Regions from separate parts of the Homo sapiens genome. Here region 2 is linked to region 1. The links come from fine-mapping of genetic effects on gene expression. A gene starts in region 1. The other region holds a variant in brackets. All regions are shown on one strand. Distances are between the middles of the regions. Region 1 holds the start of QRFPR (pyroglutamylated RFamide peptide receptor). Region 2 overlaps LOC107986309 (a long non-coding RNA gene).

Evidence for each region. PIP is the estimated chance that this variant, and not a neighbour inherited with it, causes the effect.
Region 2: its variant is fine-mapped to the expression of QRFPR in prefrontal cortex (GTEx, PIP 0.97).

The regions. Positions count from the first base shown.
Region 1 is chr4:121,375,418-121,388,326 of GRCh38, reverse strand. It overlaps QRFPR (pyroglutamylated RFamide peptide receptor), which reads left to right and starts at 7,309. Exons shown (of 6, transcript NM_198179.3): 1 at 7,309-8,019. The coding sequence starts at 7,680. RefSeq lists an enhancer at 6,739-7,523.
Region 2 is chr4:121,506,492-121,519,400 of GRCh38, reverse strand. It overlaps LOC107986309 (a long non-coding RNA gene), which reads right to left. Exons shown (of 3, transcript XR_001741806.2): 3 at 3,790-4,973. Among named protein-coding and RNA genes, the nearest start is that of QRFPR, 130 kb to the right of the region's middle. The variant G/A (reference allele first, on the strand shown) is at 6,531.

The sequences.
Region 1 (12,909 bases):
CAGAAATCATTTGGCCATGTATGTGAGAGTTTATTTCTGGGCTCTCCATTTGATTCTATTGATCTATCTGTCTATCTTTATGGCAGCACCATACTGTTTGATTATTATAGATCCGTTATAAGTTTTAAAACTGGGAAATGTGAGATCTCCAATGTTAATTCTTTTTCGAGATTGTTTTGGATATCTTTTCACCCAAGCAAAGAAAAAAAATTGTTTTGGTCATTCAGGGTCCCTTGAGATTCCATACAAATTTTAGCATAGGTTATTCTATTTCTGCAAAAAATATAATTGGGATTTTGATAGGGATTATATGAAATGTGTACATTACTTTGGGTAGTATTGACATCTTAGCAACATTATGTTTTCCAATCTATGAACACTGAATGTCTTCCCATTTATTTGTGTATTTTTAAATTTCTTTCAGCAACATTTTGTAGTTTCCAGTGTACAAGCTTTTTTCCTCTTTGGTAAAGTATATTCCTAAGTATTTTATTGTTTCTGATACTATTGCAAATGAAATTGTTTTCTTAATTTCCTTTTCATGTTGTTCTTGTCAGTGTATAGAAATGCAACTTATTTTTGTGTGTTGATTTTGTATCCTGTAACTTTGCTAGAATTGCTTACGAGTCATAGCAGTTTTTTGTGCAATCTTTAGGTGCAATTATTTTTTAAACATAAGTTACCTCCAGTCTTTTATTATGGTAATTAACATGGATAAAAATACCCAATATATACAATTACATAATCTCTCTCATTCTCTCTCTTTTGCTGAAAGCACTTTTCACAAAAAATCAATTTATTCTGGGCTTCCTGAAATTACTCTTTTTAGATATTTTTGTATCTGTTCGTATACATAAATAAACATATATATATACATGTATACACACACACACATCCCTCATATAATTTATAAAATTCCTGCTCTGTAGCAGAGTCCAGAATATTGATTCCATGCAAACTTGTAGCATACTGTGGCTACTACCCCTGCTTTTTAAAATTTCTCATTGAGATACTCTGCTACTATGGTGTCAGAAATTTTAAAGCTCCTCAGTCCTCTTTATTCAGCTTACATTTTAGAAACTATAGCCAAGAGATCATACAATCTTTTCTAAATATCATTAACTTGGTTTCTTGAAGCTTAGAATCCCTATCTGACAATATGTAGTATGTTCTACCTCATCTCCCTCAGAGTTGGCAGCTTCTCAAGCTTCTGTCACTTCCACCTTAGTATCAACTCTTTCCTCATTGGGCAGAATTAAGAACAGAAAACCAAGTCTCCCAGAAACTTTTTCCTTCTGAAAGACAAAATTCTCAGGAAAGTGAGGAAAACACCACATGCTATGCCTTTAGACTACTTATACCTTTAGCAAACATCTAGTGAACTCCCCATCTCTGACAATTTGGTAATCTTTTCTAAGGAAGGTTTGATTATTGCAACATTTCACTGACAAGATAAAGTGCAGACAGTCTCATAAAATTACTAGTTGCCTCTCCTTTTGTATTTATCCAGATACTTTCTTCCATGTTCCTATCTTTGAGGGTAGAAAGCTCTTTGGCGATTCTTCTTCACCCTGTTAGCTTGTTTATTTTGGAAAATGGACCCTCTGTCACTGTTGTTTTCTAATCATGAGAATTGCCAATAAGCATCAGAAGCCAATCCTGCCTTTCTGGCTCGCTTTATCCCTCTCTCTAACATAATCATTCCTACTTCTGTGCCTTTGGAGAGGCTACTCACTCTGTGACCTTTCTCTTTTTCAATTTATCCTTCCTTTTAGCCTTGATTTACACTCCACATTCCCCACACAGCATGTATGGATTTGCCTTTGCTTGAATTTCCAGAACATGTTCTTTCTGTGTGTGGATGTGGCACTTGTCACCTTATTTTGAGCTATGAATATTTCTGTCCCTCTTGCCCCTCTAACAAGATGGGGCTGGCAAACTGCTTCTGCAAAGGGTCACAGAGTAAATATTTTCTGCTTTGAAAACCATACAGTCTCTATCACAAATATGCAACTGTGCCATAGTAGTGTGAAAGCAGCCAAGGATGATATGTAGATGAATGGGCATGATATGTTCCAGTAAAATGTTTTTATTTTTACAGGCACTGAAAGTTGAATTTCATACAATTTTATGTGCCATGAAATATATTCTCTTTATGCTTTTTAAAAATGATTTGAAAATGTGAAAACTATTCCTTGCCCATGAGCTATACAAAAACAGATAGTGAACCATGTTTGGCCCAGGCTGTAGTTTGTTGACCCTGAACTGATAATGAGCTCCCCAAAGGCTGAGCTGTGTTGCATGCCCTTGTGGGAGTTACCCCTTAAGACTGGGTCTGTTTCTTCACCATACTACTCTTAATGATGAACACAGTGCCTGGCATGCAGCAGACATCCAAAAACGTTATTGAATAGAGGCATAAATATTCATGTACTTATCTAGTTTTCAAACAATAAGCAGGTATTTCAGGAAATGGTCATGAAGAGTTTCTAGGGGGAGAAGGAAAGGTCAGGAGTACTGGCAGTGTCTTGTGAGATTAGCCTTGGGCTACCTTAGTAGGGGTATTTTCACCAGGTAGCGAACTGGGTGAGTGAGATGTGAGTGGTTGAGATAAAGTGGGTTGGGAGGTTGAAGAGATGAGGGTTGAAGAGGTGTAGAGAAGTCGTGAAAACGAAGACTAGTGCAATATCAATAGAGGGAGGAAGACCCAAAAGAGTTTAAAACTTTAGAGGCTAATGTCACTTTTTTGTACACTTAGCTCCAATCAAACTCTAACTTCAATCATGCATTATTTCAAAGAATAATTCTCATAATCTGGATTCATAGGCTTTTCAAATATCCTAGGGAGCCACTATGAGAGTTGATCTTTGCTTTTCACACTTCCCTGTTCCCCTATACTCCTTTACTTGTTTTGAAGAGTGCTGAGTAGAACCGGGAAAGATGAGCACTATTGCTGTCTGCAATAATGTATGTCCACATAAAGCACAAGGAATTAAATATAGTCATACCAGACCTGCTCTGGCCTTAAGAAAGCCCTGAGATTTCTTCTCTGGGTCACATGGGGCTGGAATCAGCCTGCAGCTATGCTGCTGACCTTCTTTGATCCCAACACTGTGGACCAGGGAGAGGCAGGGCATGTCTTCCATCTATGTGGTTCCTATGTAATTCGAGAGCCATCCTCTATGACCCAAACTTTCAGCCCCTAGTCCAGAGAATTGGACTCATTTGTGAACCATTGCTCCTACAATGGGTTATGATTGGACATCTTCCCTTAGGTTTCCTTCAACAGTTACAATATGAACACATCCTTTTCAAATGCCCTTGGAGCATATACCAAAATATATAATATCCTTAGCAATAAAACAAACCTCAACAAATTTAAAAGAATGCAATTATACAGAGAATGCTCTTTGACCAAAAGGGAGTCAAACTAGAAAACAGAAAAATAGCAGAAAAATGTTCAAACACTTGGAAACTAAATAAGACATTTCTAAATAATCCGTGGGTCAAAAAAGACATTTAAAAGGAAATTAAAGAGTACATTGAACTGAATGAAAATGTAAATATAACACATAAAACATGTGGGACACAGTTAAGCCAGTGCTGAGAGGGAAATTTATGGCACTAAATGCTTACATTAGGAAAGAGAAAAAGTTCCAAGTCAATAATTAAAGTTTCCACCTCAAGAAACTAGAAAAAGAGTAGCAAAATAAACTGAAAGCAGGTAGAAGGAAGAAAATAATAAGGATAAGAGCAGATGTCAATAAAATTCAAGAGAAAATAATAGAGAAAATAATAGAGAAGTTGTTAGCTAAGAATTGTTTCTTTGTAACTAGCAATAAAATAGCCAAACCTCTAACTAGATTGACAAAAGAGAGAGAGAAGGCAAAAATTATAAAATCAGGAATGAGACAGGGGATACTCTTCAGCCATACAAAGGATATTAAGAGAATACTATTAACAACTCTACACACATAAATTCAAAAGAAATTTATCAATTCTTAAAAAAACTCACCCAATATGGAATAGATAATTTGAATATCACTATACTATTAACAAAATTAAATCCATCATTTAGGAACACCTGTAAAGGAACTCTTCATGCCCACATGGCTTCATTAGAGAATACTACCAAACATTTAAAGAAGAATTAATACCATTTCTACCAAACATTTAAAGAAGAATTAATACCATTTCTACACAGTCTTTTCCAGAAAATAGAAAAGGAGAGAATGCTTCTCAATTCATTCTATGATGCTATTATTACCTGACTGCCAAAACCAGGATAAAAAATACAAAAAGAAAAAAAAGTTACAGACCAATAGCCCTCATGAAGATATACATAAAATTCTTTAAAATCCTAACTAATAGAATTTAACAATATATATAAAGAATTACACACCACGACTAAGATGGGGTTTATTTCAAATATTCAAAGCTGATTCAATATTCAAAAGTCAATCAATGCAATTCACCATTTTAACAGGCTGAAGAAAAAAATCACATTGATAGTATTAATTGATGCAGAAAAATCATTTAACAAAATTTAACACCATTGATAGAATCTCTCAAGAAGTTGAGAATAGACAGTAACCTTCTCAAGTTGATAAAGAACATCTGCAACTAACATCATACTTAATGGTGAAAGAAGGCTGAATACATCCTTATAAGATTGAGGACAAGACAAGGATGATCTCCATTCTCCATTGCCATTTAACATAGTAAACTGTGTACTCCAACCATTGCAGTTAGGCAAAAAATAAAAAAAAAAAAAAACAAAAGAAAACAAAAACAACAACCAAACAAACAACAGCTAAAACCAGAAATAAAGAGCATACAAATCAGAAAGGAAGAAATAAAACTGTCTTTCTTCTCAGATAATGTGATTGTCTATGCAAGAAATCTACCAAAAAACCCTCTGTATTAGTCCATTTTCACACTGCTGATAAAGACATACCCAAGACTGGGCAATTTACAAAAGAAAGAGGTTTACTGGATTTACAGTCCCACATGGCTGGGAAGACCTCACAATCAAGGTGGAAGGCAAGGAGGAATAGGTCACATCTTACATAGATGGCAGCAGGCAAAGAGAGAACTTGTGCAGAGAAACTGCTGTTTTTAAAACCATCAGATCTCATGAGACCCATTCACTATCATGAGAACATCGTGGAAAGACCCACCCCCATGATTCAATCATCTCCCACTGGTCCCTCCCACAACACATGGGAATTATGGGAGCTACAAGATGAGATTTGGGTGGGGACACAGAGCCAAATCATATCAACCTCCTAATAAAATTAAGTGAATTCATCAACATTGGAGGAATCAAGATCAACATACGAAATAAATTGGATTTCTGCATACTAGTAATGAACACATGGAACCAAAAATTAGAAATTCAGTACAGTACCGTGTACAAATGTCCGCCCAAAATGAAATACTTAGGTGCAAATCTAAAAATATGTACAGGACTTACATGCTGAAAACTGTAAAATGCCTTTGAAATAAATCAAAGATGTAAATTTATGGAAAGACATTCTTCTCATGGATTGAAAAACTCAACCTAGTAAATATGTCAATTTCTATCAAAATCCCAGCAAGGTTTTTTGTAGACATAGACAAGTTGATTGTAAAATGTATATGAATAGGCACAGGTCCTAGAATAGTTACAATAATTTTGAAAAATAAGAATGAAGTATGAGAAATCATGCTACCTGATTTCAAAACTTATTATATAGCTACAGTAGTCAAGAATGTGGAGGATAGACACATAGATCAATTCAACAGAATAGAGAGCCCAAAACATAAAATGTAAAACTATAACACTTTTAGAAAAATACCTAAGAGAAAGTTTTTGAGAAATAGGCTTTGGTGAAGTTAGACTGAACACTAAAAGCTATCTATAAAAGAAAATATTGATAAATATGACTTCACTAAAACTAAAAGCTGTTCTGTGAAAGTCCCTGTTAAGAAGATAAATAACAAGCTACAGACTGGAAGAACATATTTGCAAACCGTTTACTAACAAAGGACTTGTATGTAGAATATAAAAAGAACTTTCAACAGCAAATAAACTAAACCATGCAATTAGAAACGGACAAAACACATGGAAAGACATTTCACCAAAGAAGATTCAAGGACGGCAAATAAGCACATGAGATGTTCAATATTACTTGCCATTAGGTAAATGTAAATTAAGGCCCTAAAGAGATATCACTACAGATCTATTAGAATAGCTTAAAAAAAAAAAGCAGCAAAACCAAATGCTGGCAAGGATGTGGAGAAACGTAACTTCTCATGCATTGATGGTAGAGATGGAGACTTGTACAGCCACTCTGAAAAGTAGTCAATCTCTTTAAAAATTAAATATACACATTACAGATTCAATAATCAAAACTTTTGGCATTTCCTATAGAAAGGAAAACTATGTTCACACAAAAACCTGTACATGATTCTTTATAGCAGCTTTATTTTTAATAGCTCAAAATGGTAATCAACCAAAATGTTCTACAAGAGGTGGATGGTTAAATAAACGGTGATACAGCCTCAGCAATAAAAAGAAACAGCCATTAATACATGCAACAACTTGGATGGATTTAAAGGGCATTAGGCTGAGCGAAGAAAATTCAATATCAAAAGGCAGCATATTGTATGATTTCCCTTACGTAATGTTCTGACAAAAGTTAAGAGAGAACATATTAGTGGTTGCCAGGAGTTAGAGATGGTGGAGGGAGGGGCTAGGTGTGAGTATAAAAAGCACCAGGGAGATTTTTGTGGTGATAGAAGAGTTTGTATCCTGACGGTTACGGGAATCTACACTTGAGATAAAAACATGCAAACACTGTACCTGTGTCAAATTCCTGGTTTTGTATTGTTCCGTAGTTAAATAAGATGTAATGAATGAAAGAAACTGGGTGAAGGGTGGGTACGCAGGATCTTTCTGTATTATCTTTGCCATTTCCCAAGTTCTATATTTTAACTATCTTAATTATTTTTCAATACAGAAAATAATTTAAAATAAGCCCTATTTGCCTTGGGTAGTTGTGGCTCCCATTATTACGCAAGAGGAGAAACTTGAAACTGTGGAACCCCCCAATACCCAGTTTCACATACAAGCATTACCTGACTGGGGCCATGCCCTGAGAAAGGCGCTGGGCGGCAGCAAGTTGGTGAGCCAGGGAAGTCTTCCCTCGCCCTGAGGGTGCGGGGAAGCGGCGTTGGCGCCACTGAAGCTGGGTGTGAGGGAGGCGTCACCGAGTTCAGCCCCACCCTCCACCGCTCCCCAAGCGGGTCCGGCGTCCGCATCGCATGGCCAGAAGGCGGGGAGCCAGAGGCGCCAGGACCCTCGCGTGGCGCTCCAGCACCCCAGACCGTGGCGGCGCCTCGCCTTAGGGAAGAGCAAGGGAAGAACTTTATTTGAACCGCGAACATTTTTTGGTCACTGAGATCGAGTCTCCCAGTGCTTTGGCTTCCCGCCTCTTTATCGTGGGTTTGATCCCTGAGCTGCTCTCCTTTCCCGAACCTCCCGGGGTGCAGCCTAGAGCCCTCCCGCGCGGCTGACTCCAGAGTAGAGGAAGGGAGGCGGCCTCCGGCTGGTCCCCCGAAGCCCTCGCTGCCCCGCAGATGCGGATGGCCAGCCAGTAGCGGGCGGTGGCCCCGCGTCCCGGGAGCGCACAGCAATGCAGGCGCTTAACATTACCCCGGAGCAGTTCTCTCGGCTGCTGCGGGACCACAACCTGACGCGGGAGCAGTTCATCGCTCTGTACCGGCTGCGACCGCTCGTCTACACCCCAGAGCTGCCGGGACGCGCCAAGCTGGCCCTCGTGCTCACCGGCGTGCTCATCTTCGCCCTGGCGCTCTTTGGCAATGCTCTGGTGTTCTACGTGGTGACCCGCAGCAAGGCCATGCGCACCGTCACCAACATCTTTATCTGCTCCTTGGCGCTCAGTGACCTGCTCATCACCTTCTTCTGCATTCCCGTCACCATGCTCCAGAACATTTCCGACAACTGGCTGGGGGGTAAGAGTCGCGCCCCGCTCCTTCGCTCCTTCTCTCTTAACCCTCTGCCTTTCAGGGGATCTCTCTCTCTCTCTCTCTCTCTCTCTCTCTCTCTCTCTCTCTCTCTCTCTCTCTCTCTCTCCTCTCTCGTCTGTCTGTCTCTCTCTCGTCTGTCTCTTCCTTACACTTCTCTGTCAAATGAATCCGGTGCTCTTTCTTAGAACTTCGCCACCTGTGTTCACCTGGACATAAGTTCTTTTGGCCGCCTCTGATTCCCCTCCAGTGCTTCCTCCTTGTGGCTTAGAGACATAGGTTGGGGAAAAGCTTCGGAAAGGTCCCGAGCAGTGAGGCAGGAAGTCGCACCCCTCGCCACTTATTTCAGCTCCCTTTCCCGTCATTACCAGGTTTTTCTCCCCTAGTTTTCTTACTAAAAGTGAGATAAAAATATTTCAAATAATTAAACCAAAGTTAAAAATCTCATTTCCTCATTCCCCCACCCTCCAGCCTCACTTCCCAGTTGCTTGCAGACAGCTTCTTGTACCTATGAGCATAAAACAAATATAATTCATGTGCAGAAAAAATATATTGAACTAGTCCTTTTAAAAACTGTATTAAGTGTCATGCAGGAAGAAGGAACACAGAAAACTGATGCCCTCCTATTATAAAAGAAGAGATAACATTCTCCTCCTTCCGTATAATGGGGGAAAAAAAATGACAGAGGAGAGGTGGAGTCACTGAGTTGGGAGCAGTGTGTGGAGGTTGGAAAAAAAGATATATTTCTTGAGATGATCCAGCTTTTCCAAGAACACAGCTGGAGAATGCCCTGGTGTAAACCCAGGAGCAGTAGTGTGTTGTATTCTCACCAGTGCTTAAGGTGCACCATGGGCCTCCCCTTTTTCACGGTTGGGTGTATTCTTGTGGCCACATCAAAATGGTTAGAAATGTAAGAGAAATAGATCATTATGCCTTCAATCTCTGCTATTTCTATCCCATTACTAATTCTCTTAAACTCATGGAGGGTGTTTCATCCTACCATTACCAATTTGAGATCGTGAGCATTGCTTTTTTTCTCATTAGCTTAAACTGAGTTTGCTGTTAGTCAGTCAGAATGTTAAAGTCCTTGATTCTTATCAATCTATAATGTAAATATTTTCAAAAAAGCATTAAACATTGAGTACAGAGCATTGACTTGAAAGTAATACACAATGTGGAAAGTAAGACCTTGATTTATGGATTAGAGACTTTCTTATGCACTCTGATGCAGTAATTGTATTTGGGCATTTTAAAGTTGCTCAGTGCAACTAACTCCATAAAATTAATGGGGTATTTTTTGATCATCATACGGAACTTGGTTTTTGGGGAAAAGCACATGAGTTTTCATTTCTAAATGTTTGTGAAAGCAGATTTATGAGGCTTCTTTGTGCTGGGGATGATTATAGCTCCATTTGTAAAGGTGAAAATAATTATGCAAAGTGGGATTTTATGGTGGGGATCAAAAGAACTGGATTACTATTTTGGCTGTAATACATGTTAATTTAGTATGTCTGGGTCTCAATTTTTCAGTAAAATATTAGGGATTAGAGAAGTTTGAAAGTGCAGTGAGTCTGGCCAGGCGTGGTGGCTCACGCCTGTAATCCCAACACTTTGGGAGGCCGAGGCGGGCGGATCACGAGGTCATGAGATCGAGACCATTCTGGCTAACACGGTGAAACCCCGTCTCTACTAAAAATACAAACAACAACAAAAAATTAGCCGGGCATCGTGGCACGCACCTATAGTCCCAGCTGCTCAGGAGGTTGAGGCAGGAGACTTGGCTTGACCCCGGGAGGCAGAGGTTGTAGTGAGCCGAGATCACGCTACTGCACTCCAACCTGGGTGACAGAGCAAGACTCCGTCTCAAAAAAAAAAAAAAAAAAAAAAAGTGCAGTGAGCCAGATCTTTAGCTCCAGTTCATGTTGGGGAATCATGGCCAAGAAAGGCCATATGGTGCATCTTCCATCCTCAGGGCTTATTTGGGCACTGCCAAGGTTTTTCTCAAGTTTTCTTTTCTCCCTGCTTCTTACTTCATGGAGAACATTTCACTTTAGCTTCTAAATACTGAAGGAGAGTAATATATTGCTCATTTATTTTATAGGGTTAGTGTGAGAATAAAGTGTGTTAGTAAAAGTGCTTTGAAAAATATTGGTCATGCCATGAAAGTATAAGGTATTAATTCTATTAAGGGGTGTTTAATTGGAGGTGGCCTATGTTTATCTGGGACCAGATTTATAGAATAAATAATGATCTTATAAATTGAGTAAATAATACCAAAATTGAAGTGCGAGGGAGAGGTGAGAGCATGCAGAGGGGCTAGAGATCAATATGAAAATAGAATTAACTTGCGCATTATAGGACAGGATAATCATGGCAAAATTTCCTTGATAAATTAACCAAAGTTCAAGAGAATGTAATCTAAGAGCCAAAAATTAATTCATAATTTATTATTTTACAAAGCTATTGAGGATCTCCTATCTGGAAAAGTGTTCTACCTTGAGAGTACAAAAGTGAGTAAAGTCTATCTGTGCCCTTCAGGACCTCAGAGAATAGGAGATGGCCCCAAAATGAGCAAAAACAGGATTTGATAGAAAAAGGATCCACTTTGCTCTACGAGCACAGAAGAGTCAGGAAGGCTTCCTGAAGGATGTGATGTTCAAGCTGGGTCTGGAAGAATAATTCAGAGAATAATTTAGACTCTTTCCAGCAGAGGATGGAGTGTGTTCTAGGAATAGGGGTCAGTGCCAAGTTGGAGGGAAGAAAGAAGATGGTGTGTTCCAAGAATACCGTGCAAGGCATTGCAAGAATGCACAGGTTATATGTGGGGAATGGCAGGAAATGAGACAGAAAAGTAGTGCAACTGGGGAGGAAAAAAAAAAAAATATATATATATATAGTTATGTAAAAACCTAAAATATGAATACCCCTCAAATTCCTTCAGGGGTGAGGTAGGAAACACAAACAAAGCAATGAAGATCACCAGGAAGCAACGGCGACAAAAGGAAGACTGTCTCCTCTAAAGGGGGCAGGATTGCAGCATGCTGGAGTGGTGCCCAGGATTGTCACATCTTCTTTTGTTGTTGTTCTTGCTTCCCCACCTCTCCTTCTGAAAAGCTGGGAATACAGATTTTTATGATGCTGACTTCTAAGTCAAATACAAAAAGTAAAATGCAATCAGGTAAAAGAAAACATCTCTATGGCTTGGTCAGAAATAATTCATGGACTTCCAGTTTGTCACATCTCTACATTGCCTGTCTCTCAAATATTTCTGACAATGCTAAGACTGTGAATGACTGTTTTATTCTTCTTTCAGTCCATTCCTCTTTCTTGCTGGGGACCAGCAGCACCTATTGAGTCAAAACCTGCTTTTTAACAAGGTTCTCAATTGTTTCACGTGCACATTAAAGTTTGATAAGCACTAGAGAAGTCAGCTCAGGTCTTTATAAGGAAAAAAAAAAGTTTGTTAAGTACTACTTGAAGTAGTAATGGCTCTTAGACCTGGCTACACAGAGAATCTCCTGAAGGGCTTTTGAAAATGGCCTGCGCCAGCCCCAGCCCAAACCAGTTACACTTGTCTCTTTGGAGCCAGCCACACTGCCTTACAGAGCCCAGTGTGCACAACTCTACTCAGGTCCCCTTTCAGGGACATCATGTTGTTATCTTAAAACTGGTTGTGGTGGGAGTATTCACATCATGGAAATCAGCACTTACTAGTTAGGCCTGTTTTTTAAAAAAGTGAAAAAAAAAAAAAACAAACCCAGAAATCAAACAGTTGCTTTCCCAGCACACCACTGAGCAAAGACATTGAGTTTTCTTTTGTACACTGCTGGGACCATGAATAATAGGTGAGGCAAAGTGTAGCCACAAACATGTTTTTACATGAATTACACTAAAGTTGGAAAGAGATACAGCTGATCCACAGCATCTAAGTGTGCCCAGCATGGAGGCAAGCTGACATTCAATTCCTTTCATCCACCTTACCATCATTGCCTTATTGGCTTACCTTTGATCTACCAGTTGACTCACTCTCTACTCCCCAGGACTCCTTCCAACATGGAGCTAGCAGAAGTGGCGATTCTCTGCACCCAAATATTATAAATGGCACATGTTTATGAGTTTTTTGTTACTCATATGAGGGTGGAGTTGCTCTGCCATGGCCCTTTCCTTTAGGAAAGTTTTGTCTCTGTTCTCTTCTCTGATTTACTGGGCTAGACTGCAGAAGTGGATTTGTCCATTGCCTCCTTAGGGCCACCAAATTTACCTGTCCTTATCTGCAGCCTGTTCCTCCTCATTTTGTTTTGTTTTTTCCTCCTTTTTATCTTTTTCTTCACAATGTCCAAATGCTCCTCCAAATTCACTCACTGAACATGTTCTGTTTCTTCCAGCTAAATACAGAACTGATTTTGCTTGTGACCAGTGCTGCAGAACACCACTCTCTTCTCTAAGTTTCCATGAACTAGTCTTTTTTTGCCTCTTTGTTTCCTTTATGTCCCTATCTCTGTATTTTCTGCCTTTTGAGAGTTCTCAATCTTTCTCTTATTTTGCGAGTAAGTGTCCACTGAAGCTTAGCATGCAACCTCTTTTCTTTCATCATCAATTTCTGCATAGAGGCTATAGTCATGACTCTCACTTCTTTGCTGATGGTTCTGAAATAGTATCTAATCAATATCATAAGCCATGGTCTTTCACCTGATCTGAAGACTTGGCACTTACACATGAATATATTACCAGCATCTCTCATTCTCTCATGGTATCTTGTTCCTCTGCCCAAAGTCTAAAGTATTATTAATGGCACTATGAGTCATTCCTGTATTCAGCATTTCTTGGGTATTTCCTGTGTGCACTGGGATATTGCAGGTATTGAGAAAGCTGTGTTTC
Region 2 (12,909 bases), 130 kb before region 1:
ATGGAATAGATGGAGGCTTTAGGGGATTTCAGACACACGACTCAGTTTATTTCTGAGCACGAGTCACTTTTGAATCTGTGAAAAATAATTGGTGAAACACGAAGGGAACTGGAGTAGCTGTATTAGATGATAGAAGTAGACATCTCCATGATTACTAACATGGCGAAGCTAGGGAAGCCCTTCAATGGCTCCTTATTGCACTTGGAATAAAGACAAGGCATCAATCCTACATAAAAGGGACCCTACTTACCTCTCCTCCCTCTTCTGCTTCCCTCAAATTGTACGAGCCAGTCACATGGCTGTCTTCCAGTCCTTTAAATGCATCTGGCTCTCTTACCAGCTGGGCCTCTTTGAATGCTGTTCACTCTGCCTTGACATCCTTTCCCTTTCTTAGCTTGATTAATTACTACTTATTGTTAAAACCTTACCTTTGAGGCTACTTTTCCCAGAATGCATTTTCCAACATTATTCTCTGGGTTATGCCATCCCCATCTATGCTTCCATGGAGCCTCCAAATACTCCTAAATATATTCCCATAGCGCCTACCATATGGGAAATGTATATTTATTTAGTTTAACACTTACTAGAATGAAAACTTCATAAGAGCAGGGATTGGATCTGTGCCTTGTCCACCTCTGTATCTTTAGTCTCTAGCATAGTTCTGGGAACTGAGTAGAGGCTCAAAAATATTTAGTGAAGGAAGAGAAGGTAGAAACTTAAAAAGGAAGGGAGGAAAGAAAGATTACAGGTAAGGAGTGAGTAGGAAACAAAAAATAATAATAATACTTCATTTGGGCACAAAAGATGACTCTTGATAATAACAACAAAATCCCTCTACCATCCTCTTTGACTCACACGAATGTTTATGGTGGTGTTATTTATAATGGCTAAAAAATGGAAACAACCCAAATGATAAATGGCTAGACAAAATATGGTATATCTATGTAAAGGAATATTATTCAGCAATAAAAAGAATAAACTACTAATACATGCTACAACTGGATGAACTTTGTGAACATTCTGCTAAATGAAAGAAGACAGACACAAAAGTTCACTTATTATATAATTATATTTACATGAAATGTTCAGAATAGGCAAATCTATACAGACTGAAAGTAGATTAGTGGTTTCCAGGAGTTGGGGAGAAAGATAGTGGAAGTGACTGTTAATGGGTATGGAGTTTGCTTTTAGGATAATGAAATTGCTCCAAAATTAAATAGTGATGATGGTTGCACAACTGTGGGTATACTAAAAGTCACAAAATTATTTAATTTAAGTGGGTAAATTGTATGGTATGTGAATTACATCTCAATAAAGCTATTGTTTTTAAAAATATGGATGTCAAGAACTTGGAATACTGGTGTAATTACGGCTTGGCAGAATCAAATAGTGCTACTTCCCTTCCCCAATCAAACAACTATGGCTTTAGACTCTGTAAAAGTAGGATTCTGAAACACTGGATGAATTTTACATTATGTTATTGCTTATAAACTAATTCAACTCCAGTGCAATGGAAGAAATAGATACAAGGAAAAAATCAGTACAATTCTACTTTCAAAACCACTCCATTTAATCTTCAGAAAATTTAAAATAAAGTTCATAGTTCGATATTGAAAAAAAATTCCGTCATAGCTACTTCACAGCTCCCAAAAGTAAACTGTAATGGTGACCCCAAATTGTATTAATTTATGAAGAAAATGCTACACTTTCAAAAATAAGACTTCCTGTTTTGAAGAGTCAATGCATTTGGAATGCAACATCTTCCAAAACAACACAGAGTCAGTAGGGAAATACGGTCATCTACACACAGGCTCAATGTATACAAACAGAAGAAAATTTAATGTTTATAGAAAGCCACACAATATGGAAAGCTTTGCTCATTATATGGCAAAATAGCTGATGGGAGGAAGCACCAACTGTCACCACTTATTCAACAAATGTGTTCTATAAGTTTAGTGGAACACATTCAATAACAAACTCTGGCTTATTGAATTGCATCAGGAGCAAAGGCAGATGAGTGATTCATGCTCTCTGAGAAGGAAATCACAAGGCTAGTATTCTTAGGGTCTTCATATTATTTCTCCCCAAATTACTTTTGTATTATGCCCCTGGCACTAGCGTTCACAGATGGTCTTCTACATAACACTCACACTGAAGTAAATATTTTAATAAGCATTAGAACTAAGCAAGAAGGGAGGAGGAGAAAAATCAGGGAAGATGGAGTTCAAAGAAAGAGTGAAAGCAAGATAGAGAATCACAGAATTAAAATACTATTTTGCATAATGCTATCATCAATAAGAATAACAATAAAAATATACTTGTATAACATGACGTTGGAGATTTCTTAAAATTATAGCTACAATTATGTGCCATTGGAGGTTAGGTAGAGTCAGGCATAATTATATTTGGCAGACACAAAGTACAAATTATATTTGTACTTGTCACCACTACTGACCTCCCAAATGTGTTGGTTTCCGATGTTTCTCCCTGAGCAGGCTGCTAAGCTGTGTTTACTATTCTTAAGATACTTCAAGGTCCCACTTAACTCCTCAGATTTTCTTAAAAAGTGACTGATGTGTGGACTCAGCAGCAACTAAGCCAAATGTCTTTGCAATGTCAACTGATAAATCAGCATCTATTCTCATGAGCTCTTATTGTGGCTTCCTGTACTGTAGGGGCTGGAAAGCTATAACGCATATTTTTAAAAGGTGTTTTTGATGCAAATGGGGTTTCATGATTAAATGCACTGAAATCTGATTTGGGAGATAGAAGGAAGATAGAAGCCATTTTCCTACTGCTTTTTAATTTGATCATTTTCTGCTGGCAAGCAGAGTTATTGACGTGAGTTTTCCTGCGGTAGTATTAGAATGCCCACACAATGGCTGTATGGTTGTCAAGAGACACTTGCTATTGGAGCAGTGGTGGTTTCCTGTTTTATCACAACTTACGGTGATGCATTATAAAATTCAATTTTTCATGAACAGCTTCCTAATTGTTCACCTGTGTCAGAATTAGCAGCTCTACAGGTATGTCATATCTGTAATATTCTGCGGGGGTCATTCTTGGAAGCTTAGAATCAAAGCCTGCTTGTTTTTCTAAAGATTTTTTAAGCACCTAATTCCCATTGTTAAATCTGTTTAAAATACCTAGAGGGGTTTTGAGTTACTGCACTAGGAACTCATACACTAGCCAAGAGAGGTCATTAGTTTTATAGATGAGGCAGTTTAGTAATTGCTCAACTTAGCTTGTAACATTTAGTGTAGAACAATGATCCAGGTTTTTATCTTCAAGTCTAATCCATATGATGTTAGTAATATGGAAACTCCACATAATTTCAAGCATTGTTTTAGATGTATGCAAATATACATTTATTTATATATTGTGTTAGTCTCTTTGCGTTGCTACAAAGGAATATCTGAGTCTCAGGAATTTATAAAGAAAAGGGGTTTATTTTGGCTCATAGCTCAGCAGGTTGTACAGAAAGTGTGGCACCAGCATCTGCTTCTGGTAAGGGCCTCAGGAAGCTTACAATCATGGCAGAAGGCGAAGGGGGATGCTGTGTATCACATGGTGGGAGAGGAAGCAAGAGAGTGAAGAGGAAGTTCCAGGCTCTTTTAAATAACCAGATCTGGTGTGAACTCATAGAGGGAGAACTCACTGATTATTGTGAGGATGGCATCAAAACATTCATGAGAATCCACCCCCATGATCCAAACACCTCCCACCAGGCCCCACCTCCAACATTGGGGATTATATTTCAGCATGAGATTTGGAGGGGACAAACATCCAAACTATATCATTTAACCTCTGGCCCCCCAAATCTTATGTCCTCCTCACATTGCAATATGCATCATCCCTTTGCAATAGTCCCCCAAAGTCTTAATCATTTCAGCATTAACTCAAAAGTCTAAAGCCTCACTTGAGACTCAGGGTAAGTTCCTTCCACCTATGAGCCTGTCAGATCAAAAACAAGTTATTTACTTCCAAAATACAATAGTATCATTGTATAATAGTATCATTGGGTCAACATTCCCATTCCAAAAGGGAGAAATTGGCCAAAAGGAAGGTGCAACAGGCTCCATGCAAGTCTGAAACACAGCAGGGCAAACATTCAAACTTAATGTCCAAAATAATCTTGTTAACTCCATGTTCTGCATCCAGGGCACACTGGTACAAAGGGTGGGCTCACAAGGCCTTGGGCAGCTCTGCCTCTGTGACTTTTCACAGGTCAGCCCCTGTGGCTGGTCTCACATGTTGGCTTTGAGTGACTGCGGCTTTTCCAGGCTCAGGGTGCGAGCTACTGATGGCTCTACCATTCTTAGCTATTGAGGCAGTGGCCCCATTGCCACAGCTTCACTAGATAGTGCCCTGGTGGGGACTGTGTGGGGGCTCCAACCCCACATTTCCCCTCAGCACTATCCTAATGTTTGTTGTAGGACTTTCTCCTTAGTTCAGCTAAAAGCCAGGTTCTTGTCACTTGACCATCAAAGATTAGCCCCGCAGACAATTTGAAGGGTGAGAAAAATGGAATTTATTGGGTGAAAAGGAAAAAAGGGAAACAGAGACACTCGGCGAAGTGAGAGTCTCGCTAGCTGGCTTCCCACCTCACAGATTGAATCCCAGGTTACCGCCCCACATCAGGAGAGGCCAGGCTCCTCCCCCATGCAAATGGTGTGAACTTTCCAACGTTCCACCCCAGTGCGCACTCCTCCCAGTGGGCAAGCTGGTCAGAGGTTCTGCCAGGGGGCGCTTCTTACTTGGCTACCTAATTCTGCCACTCTGAAGAAGTACATCTAACTGCCATTAGAATAAGGATAAGGATAAGGACGAAGACTGATCTTAACTGCTTCCTGCTGACAGGGGGCGCTGTTTTGGGAAAACGGCAGTCTCCCTCAGAAGCTTATTTAAGGGTCCTCAGCAGAAGGGGCCATTGTCTGAGGCTCTGGTTGCATGACTGTGTGGAGTTTGCTGGCCTGAAGGTGAAAAGAGAAAAACCAGGTTATTAGAAAACATGTATCAAAATCAAACAAGTAGGGAGGCGGGTAAGGATAGCTCAAAAATCCCAAGGCCTTTTACCAGTTTGCACAGGGAGAGGGAGGCCAAAACCTTCCATCATTGAAAGGGCAGAGGTTTGTCCTCGCCTGAATAGACGCTTACTCTGGATATGGGTTTGCCTATCCTGCACACAATGCTTCTGCCAAGACTACCATCTGTGGGCTCATGGAATGCCTTATCCACCATCATGGTATTCCACACAGTGTTGCCTCTGACCAAGGCACTCACTTTACAGCTAAAGTAGTGAGGCAGTGGGCTCATGCTCATGGAATTCACTGGTCTTTCCATGTTCCCCATCATCATAAAGCAGCTGGATTGGTAGAATGGTGGAATGGCCTTTGAAGTCACAATTACAATTCCAACTAGGTGACAATACTTTGCAGGGCTGGGGCAAAGTTCTCTAGAAGGTTGTGTATGCTCTGGATCAACATCCAATATATGATATTGTTTCTCCTATAGCCAGGATTCACTGGTCTAGGAATCAAGGGATGGAAGTGGAAGTGGCACCACTCACCATCACCTCTAGTGATCCACTAGCAAAATTTTTGCTTTTTGTTCCCATGACATTACATTCTGCTGGCCTAGAGGTCTTAGTTCCAGAGGGAGGAACGCTGCTACCAGGAATCACAACAATTATTCCATTAAACTGGAAGTTAAGATTGCCACCTGGACACTTTGGGTTCCTCCTAGCTTTAAGTCAACAGGCTAAGAAGGGAGTTACAGTGTTGGCTGGGGTGACTGACCCAGACTATCAAGATGAAATCAGTCTACTACTCCATAATGGAGGTAAGAAAGAGTATTCATGGAGTACAGGAGATCCATTAGGGCATCTCTTAGTATTACCATGCCCTGTGATTAAGGTCAATGGGAAACTACAACAGCCCAATCCAGGCAGGACTACAAATGACCCAGACCCTACAGGAATGAAGGTTTTGGTCACTCCACTTGGAAAAAAAACCATGAGCTGCTGAGGTGCTTGCTGAAGGCAAAGGGAATACAGAATGGGTAGTAGAAGAAGATAGTCATCAATACCAACTATGACCATGTGACCAGCTGCAGAAATGAGGACTGTAATTGTCATAAGTATTCCCTCCTTCTTTTGTTAAAAACGTGTTTGTGCATGTATACATTTGTAGTAAGAACATATCTTCACTTTATTTCCTTTTTCCTTTATAATATGACATAAGATTTATTGACTGCAATTCAAGTATTGTTAAATTTATGTAATAGTTACTAGGTTGGGGATTGGTGCATTTCCAGTTGTACATAGGACAGTTGTATTATGTTAGGCATAATTATGACCTTATTATTGTCTTTATTTGAAAATTACGTATGATCTCAGAAAATGTGTATGGGTTCAAGTTGACAAGAATGGACTTTTGATTGTTAAAACTGAGTGTCAACTTGATTGGATTGAAGGATACAAAGTATTGATCGTGGGCGTGTCTGTGAGGGTGTTGCCAAATGAGATTAAC[G/A]TTTGAGTCAAAGGCAGACCCACCCTTAATCTGGGTGGGCACAATTCTAGTTAGCTGCCAGCATGGTAGAACATAAGCAGGCAGAAAAATATGAAAAGAGAAACTGGCCTAGCCTCCCAGCTTACATCTTTCTCCTGTGCTGGATGCTTGCTGCTCTTGAACATTGGACTCCAAGTTCTTCAGTTCTGCAACTCGGACTGGCTCTCCTTCCTCCTCAGCCTGCAGATGCCCTATTGTGGGAACTTGTGATCATGTGAATTAATACTTAATAAACTCCCCTTTACATATATATATATATATATATATATATATACACATATATATATATATTCCATTAGTTCCATCCCTCTAGAGAGCCCTGACTAATACACATAGTTTGCAATATATTCTCCCATTCTGAAGTTTGTCTGTTTACTCTGTTGAAGTTTCTTTTGCTGTGCAGGAGCTCTTTAGTTTAATCAGGTCCCACTTATCAATTTTGTTTTTGTTGCCATTGCTTTTAGGGACTTAGTCATAAACTCTTTGCCAAGGCTGATGTCTACAATGGTTTTTCCTAGGTTTTGTTCTAGGATTTCTATAGTTCGAGGTCTTTAATCCATATTCAATTAATTTTTGTATATGGTGAAAAGTAGGAGTCCAGTTTTATTCTTCTGTATGTGGCTATCTAGCTATCCCAGCATCGTTTATTGAATAGGGAGCTTTTCCCCCTTGCTTATTTTTGTCAACTTTGTTTCAATCAGATGGCTGTAGGTGTGTGGCTTTATTGCTGGATTCTTTATTCTGTTCTATTAGTCTATGTGTCTGTTTTTGTATTAGTACCATGGTATTTTGGTTACTGTAATGTATTGTAGCTTGAAGTTGGGTAGTGTGATGTCTCTGGCTTTGTTTTTCTTGTATAGAATTGCTTTGGCTTTTTAGGTTCTTTTTTGGTTCCATGAGAACTTTGGGATGCATTTTTTTTTTAGTTTTGTGAAAAATGATGTTGGTAGTTTGGCAGGAACAGTGTTGAATCTGTAGATTGTTTTGGGCAGTATAGCCATTTTAACAGTATTGATTCTTTCAATCCATGAGCATGGGGTATTTTTCCATTTGTTTGTATCATCTCCGATTTCTTTCAGCAGTGTTTTGTAGTTCTCCTTGTAGAGATTGTTTTCCTCCTTGGTTAAATGTATTCCAAAGTATATTCTTTTTTTCTTTTTGTGGCTACTGTAAATGGGATTGCATTCTTTATTTGAGTCTCAGCTTGAATATTATTGGTGTATGAAAATGTTACTGATTTTTGTACACTGATTTCAAATCCTAAAACTTTAGTGAAGTTATTTATCAGTTCTAGGAGCCTTTTGGAGGAGTCTTTAGGGTTTTCTAGGTATAGAATTATATCATCAGTGAAGAGAGATAATCTGACTTTTTCTTTTCATATTTAGATGCATTTTATTTATTTCTCTTGTCCGAATTGCTCTGGCTAGGACTTTCAGTACTATGTTGACTGGGAGTCATAAGAGTGGGAATACTTTTCTTCTTTCTGTTCTTAAGAAAAATGCTTCCACCTTTTGCCTATTCAGCATGATGTTGGCTGTGGGATTGTCATAGATGGCTTTTATTCTTTTGAGGTATGTTCCTTCAATGCCTAGTTTGTTGAGGATTTTTATCATGAAGAGATGCTAGATTTTATATTTAAAAAGCTTTTACTGCATCTATTGAGATGATCGGATGGCTTTTTAAAAATTCTATTTATGTGGTGAATCACAATTATTAATTTGCATATGTTGGAACAGTCCTGTATCCCAGGAATAAAGCCTACTTGATTGTGGTGAATTAACCTTTTGATTTGCAGCTGCATTTGGTTTGCAAGTATTTTGTTGAGGGTTTTTGCATCTACGTTCATCAGGGATATTGGCTTGTATTTTTAGTTGTGTCTTTGCCAGATTTTGGTATCAGAGTGGTGCTGGCTTCATAGATTAAGTTAGGGAGGAGTCCCACCTCCTTGATTATTTTTAATAGTTTCAGTAGAATTGGTAACAGCTCTTCTTTGCACATCCGGTAGAGTCTGGATGTGAAATTATGTGGTTCAGGGCTTTTTTGGTTGGTAGGTTTTGTTATTACTGAATCAACTTCAGAAATCAATATGGGTCTGTTCAGGGTATCAGTTTCTTCCTTACACATCCTGAGAGGTTGTGTGTTTCTAGGAATTTATTCATTTCCTCTAGATTTTCTAGTTTGTGTGCATAGAAATGTTCCTAATAGCCTCTGAGAATCTTCTATATTTCTGGGGGATTGGTTGTAAAACCACCATTGTCATTTATTAAGTATCTGCTATGTGCCAGGCCCCATGCTGAGCACTGGGATTCCCCTGCCCTGTGGAGCTAACCTACACCCGCATCAATACACAGTCACAGTGGTGGTGAGGTCTGAGAGGAAAGCCACAGGCCAAGTAATGGCATAAGATCAGGAAAAGCCCTGGTCTGGCAGCAGTAAAGGATAGTGTGAGGGGTGAGGAGGCTGGGAAAGGAGAAGCTTAGAGGCACAGGCAGGGGCCAAAGTGGGTGTGCTTTGAACACAAGGGAAAGACATTGGACTTTATCTTGAGGGTCACTGGAAACCCAGATGAGTTTTAGGCAGAGCAGTGACTTGTATTTTAGAAAGCCTAGCTTGGTTGCTAAGAGCAGGTGGCAACTTCCAGGTGAGAGATTATGTAGCCACCATCTGAGACTCAGATACATAGAAAGCAAGAGATGGAGGGAGAAAAGCAGGATCAGGGACTGGTCTTGGTAGGTGATCAAAGCTCACACCAGATCACTGATGAGATTCATGGGCTGCTTACACAGGAGAAGTGACACGACTGGCCAGATAAGAGGAGCGGCCAGCTATGGACAGCTGAGCTTGGGGATGACATCTAAGTGGGGGTCTCTAGGTGGGAACAGGCTGATTGCAAGTTCTGGTGCTTAGGAGAGGGGATAGAGCAGTGGAAATGGCCTGGGCTCCCTCGTGGAACCCAGCCATGAGTGTGGAGCATCAGAAGAGAGACAAGGGAGGGGCCTAGAAAGGAGGCTGCAAAAGGGTGGCCTGAGCAGTGGAGGACACCAGGAGCATGTCACCTGGAAGGAGCAGAGGAGGGTAAGTTTCAGGCCATAGGGCATGGCCAGCTGGTCTAATACAGCCAAAGTCAAGGATGATAAAGACAGCAGCAATGTGGGGGCCATCAGTGCCCCTAACCAGAGGAGAGTCCCAGGTGAGTGGGAGAGGAGGAAATACAGACAGCCAGATTCAATGACCCCCCTCCTGGAAGCTCTGCTGGGACTATGAGGGGAGAGAGGAGACAGCACGTAGGTTCACAGGGTGACTTTCTATTTAGATGCTGAGCAGAAAGTGCAGTTTGTGAAGGGCTGGTGTTCCCATCACAGTAATGCAGAACTGGCTGACTGTAAAATGGCTTTGCCACTCACAGACCATGTTTTCACCTTTGGTGTCAAGTGGTGATCCCCTTAACAACCCTGTGAGGTAGATGCTGCTGCTTCTGCTTTACAGATGAGTAACTGGAGCCTCCGAGAGGTGAAGTCAGTGGCTCCTGGTTTGCAGCTCATACAAAGCAGGAGCAGGATCTGAATTGGGGGATTACAATTTGAGATGAGATCTGAGTGGGGACACAAAGCCAAACCATATCATTACTCTTCAAATATTTTAAAAATATAATTTTTTCCCAATGCTCAGTAAAACATGATAATTGCTTGAATGAAGTGTTGATTTTATCTTTTATAGAAAATCAGAAAATTCAAATTAAAAATGGCAGAAAAAAGTGTAAAAAATTAGAGTTACAGAAAATAAGATAAATTTTGTAAGACTTAATATGTTATAATACCTCCTAATTTGCCTGCAAATCTGTGAAATGTGTGAAATTAATGTAAAACTTTTCTAAACATTATCCTAGTTTCTTCAGTGTAGAGACACAAATGCTTGGATCAACAATGACTCTGCTAAATATAATTTCATAGTCCTTGGGTAAAATATTTTAGAATTCATGAATGTAGATGTGAAAAGATAGAAAAAAATATTTCTTTTAATTTTCAAAAAGGGCTTACTATAACAGAAGACTGCTATAGATCAATAAGCTTAATATGTATTATGCTATATTCCAGGACTGATTATTAGACAAATATTTGAGGCTTCTAGACACAAATAAGTAAAATATTTTACTTACTATGCTATATGTACTAACAGAATGTCATGACAATTGAACCTCTAATAATCTTTCTTAGAGTTACTAGATTGACAAATAAGGGCAAAACTATAGCCAAATATGAAGATAAGGATTAGAAATAGCCTTTAGCAAACAGTGAGAAAACTACAAAGATTAGTTTATGATATAATTGCCTTAGGGATACAAGTGCTACTGTAAATATGCATAATACAATGCCTAGGAAATTACAGACTCCTGAAAGAGAATTGTAACTCTACTACATATTGAATACAGTGGATGAATAGGTTGAAATAGTATTTAATGTAGCACTATTAAAAGTAAATGTTCAAAAATGCAGGTATCTTTTTTTACTCAGAAAATTAAAAGTTTAAGATAATGAATTACTTTAAGATCATATGGTGTAACTTAACATCTTAAGGTGTAACATGTGAAAAGTTTAACACACTCTCCACCACTACCTCTGTTCCTCATCTTCCATTTACAGTCATGTGCTGTATAATGACATTTCAGCCAGTGACAGAAAACATAAGTGACAGTGGTCTCATAAGATTATAATGGAGCTGAAAAATTCCTATCATCTAGTGACATGGTAGCCGTCATAATGGCATAGTGTAATTACTTTGTTTTAAAAATAAATGTAGTATATCATAAAGGTATAGTGCTTATAAATTCTATAGTAATATGATGTCCTAGGCCTTGATTCACTCACCACTTACTCACTGACACATCCAGAGAAACTTCCAGTTCTGCAAACTTCATTCATGTTAGTTTCCCTATACAGGCGTATCATCTTTTAATTTTTTAAACTGTATTTTCACTGTGTCTTTTCTAAGTTTAGATAAAAATACCATTGTGTTATAATTTCCCATAGTATTGAGTATAGTAACATATAGGTTTGTAGCCTAGGAGCAATATGCTATATACCATGTAGCCTAGGTGTGTAGTAAGCTGTATCATTTAGGTTTGTGCACGTACACTCTATGATGTTTGCACAAAACCAAAATTACCTAAGGACACATTTCTTCAGTATGTATTCCCATTGTTAAGTGACACAGGATTGTATTCCTCTGTCCATTTCAGGTTAGTTCTTGCACCCTCCCTTCCATAGGAACTTTTCTCATGTCATCATGACCTCCTTATTACTAAATATGGTGAATATTTTTAGATTATTATATTAATTTATTTATTGACAGCATTTTATATTTCTGACAATTTAATTTCTTCTTTTCTTACCTATTAATGTTTTTTCTCTTTCTTTTACAAAATTATGATCCTATCATTTTATAAAAATGATTTTACAAATGAGAAATATTATAAAAGAAGGTTATAAACAAGCAATACAGAGAAGTGTGGAGTTGAGGGCAAAATAATAATTTCCAAATCTGACCAACTTCATATATCTTTTAGCAAAATTCAGTGACTGTCATTTTAGACATCTGTGAGGGGACTTATATGAATACACACACACACACACATGCACACACACACAGACTAGTTCATTTAAAAAACATTTATAATTTATATTATTTTATTTTTACTAAGAAGTATTAAACTTTGTTACTTGCATAGAAAGAAATAAAACTCAAGGAACTGATAAACTATTTTTTTGCAAATTAAAAATTTTAAACTGACATATACAATTTTTTACTTATTGTGGAATGGTTAAATCTTGCTAATTAACAAACGCGTATTACCTCATATATATAAATTACCTCAAATATTTATCATTTTTGTGGCAAGAACACTTAATATCCACTTTTTAAGCATTTTTTAAGAATACAGTCATTATGTAAAATAATATGGCAGTTCCTCAGAAAAATTAAAAATGGGACTACCATATGATACAGCAATCCCACTAGTGGGTATATATCCAAAGGAAATGAAATCAACATGTCAAAGAGACCTGCACTTTCACATTTATTGCAGCATTATTCACGATAGCCAAGATATGAAATCAACCTAAGAGTCCATGGATGGGTGGATGGATATAGAAAATGTGACACACACACACACACACACACACAAACACTATTCAGCCACACACACACGAATACTATTCAGAGACACACACACACACAGACACACACGAATACTATTCAGCAACACATACATACATACACTAGAATACTATTCAGACACACACACACACAAGAATACTACTCAGCCACACACACACACTAGACT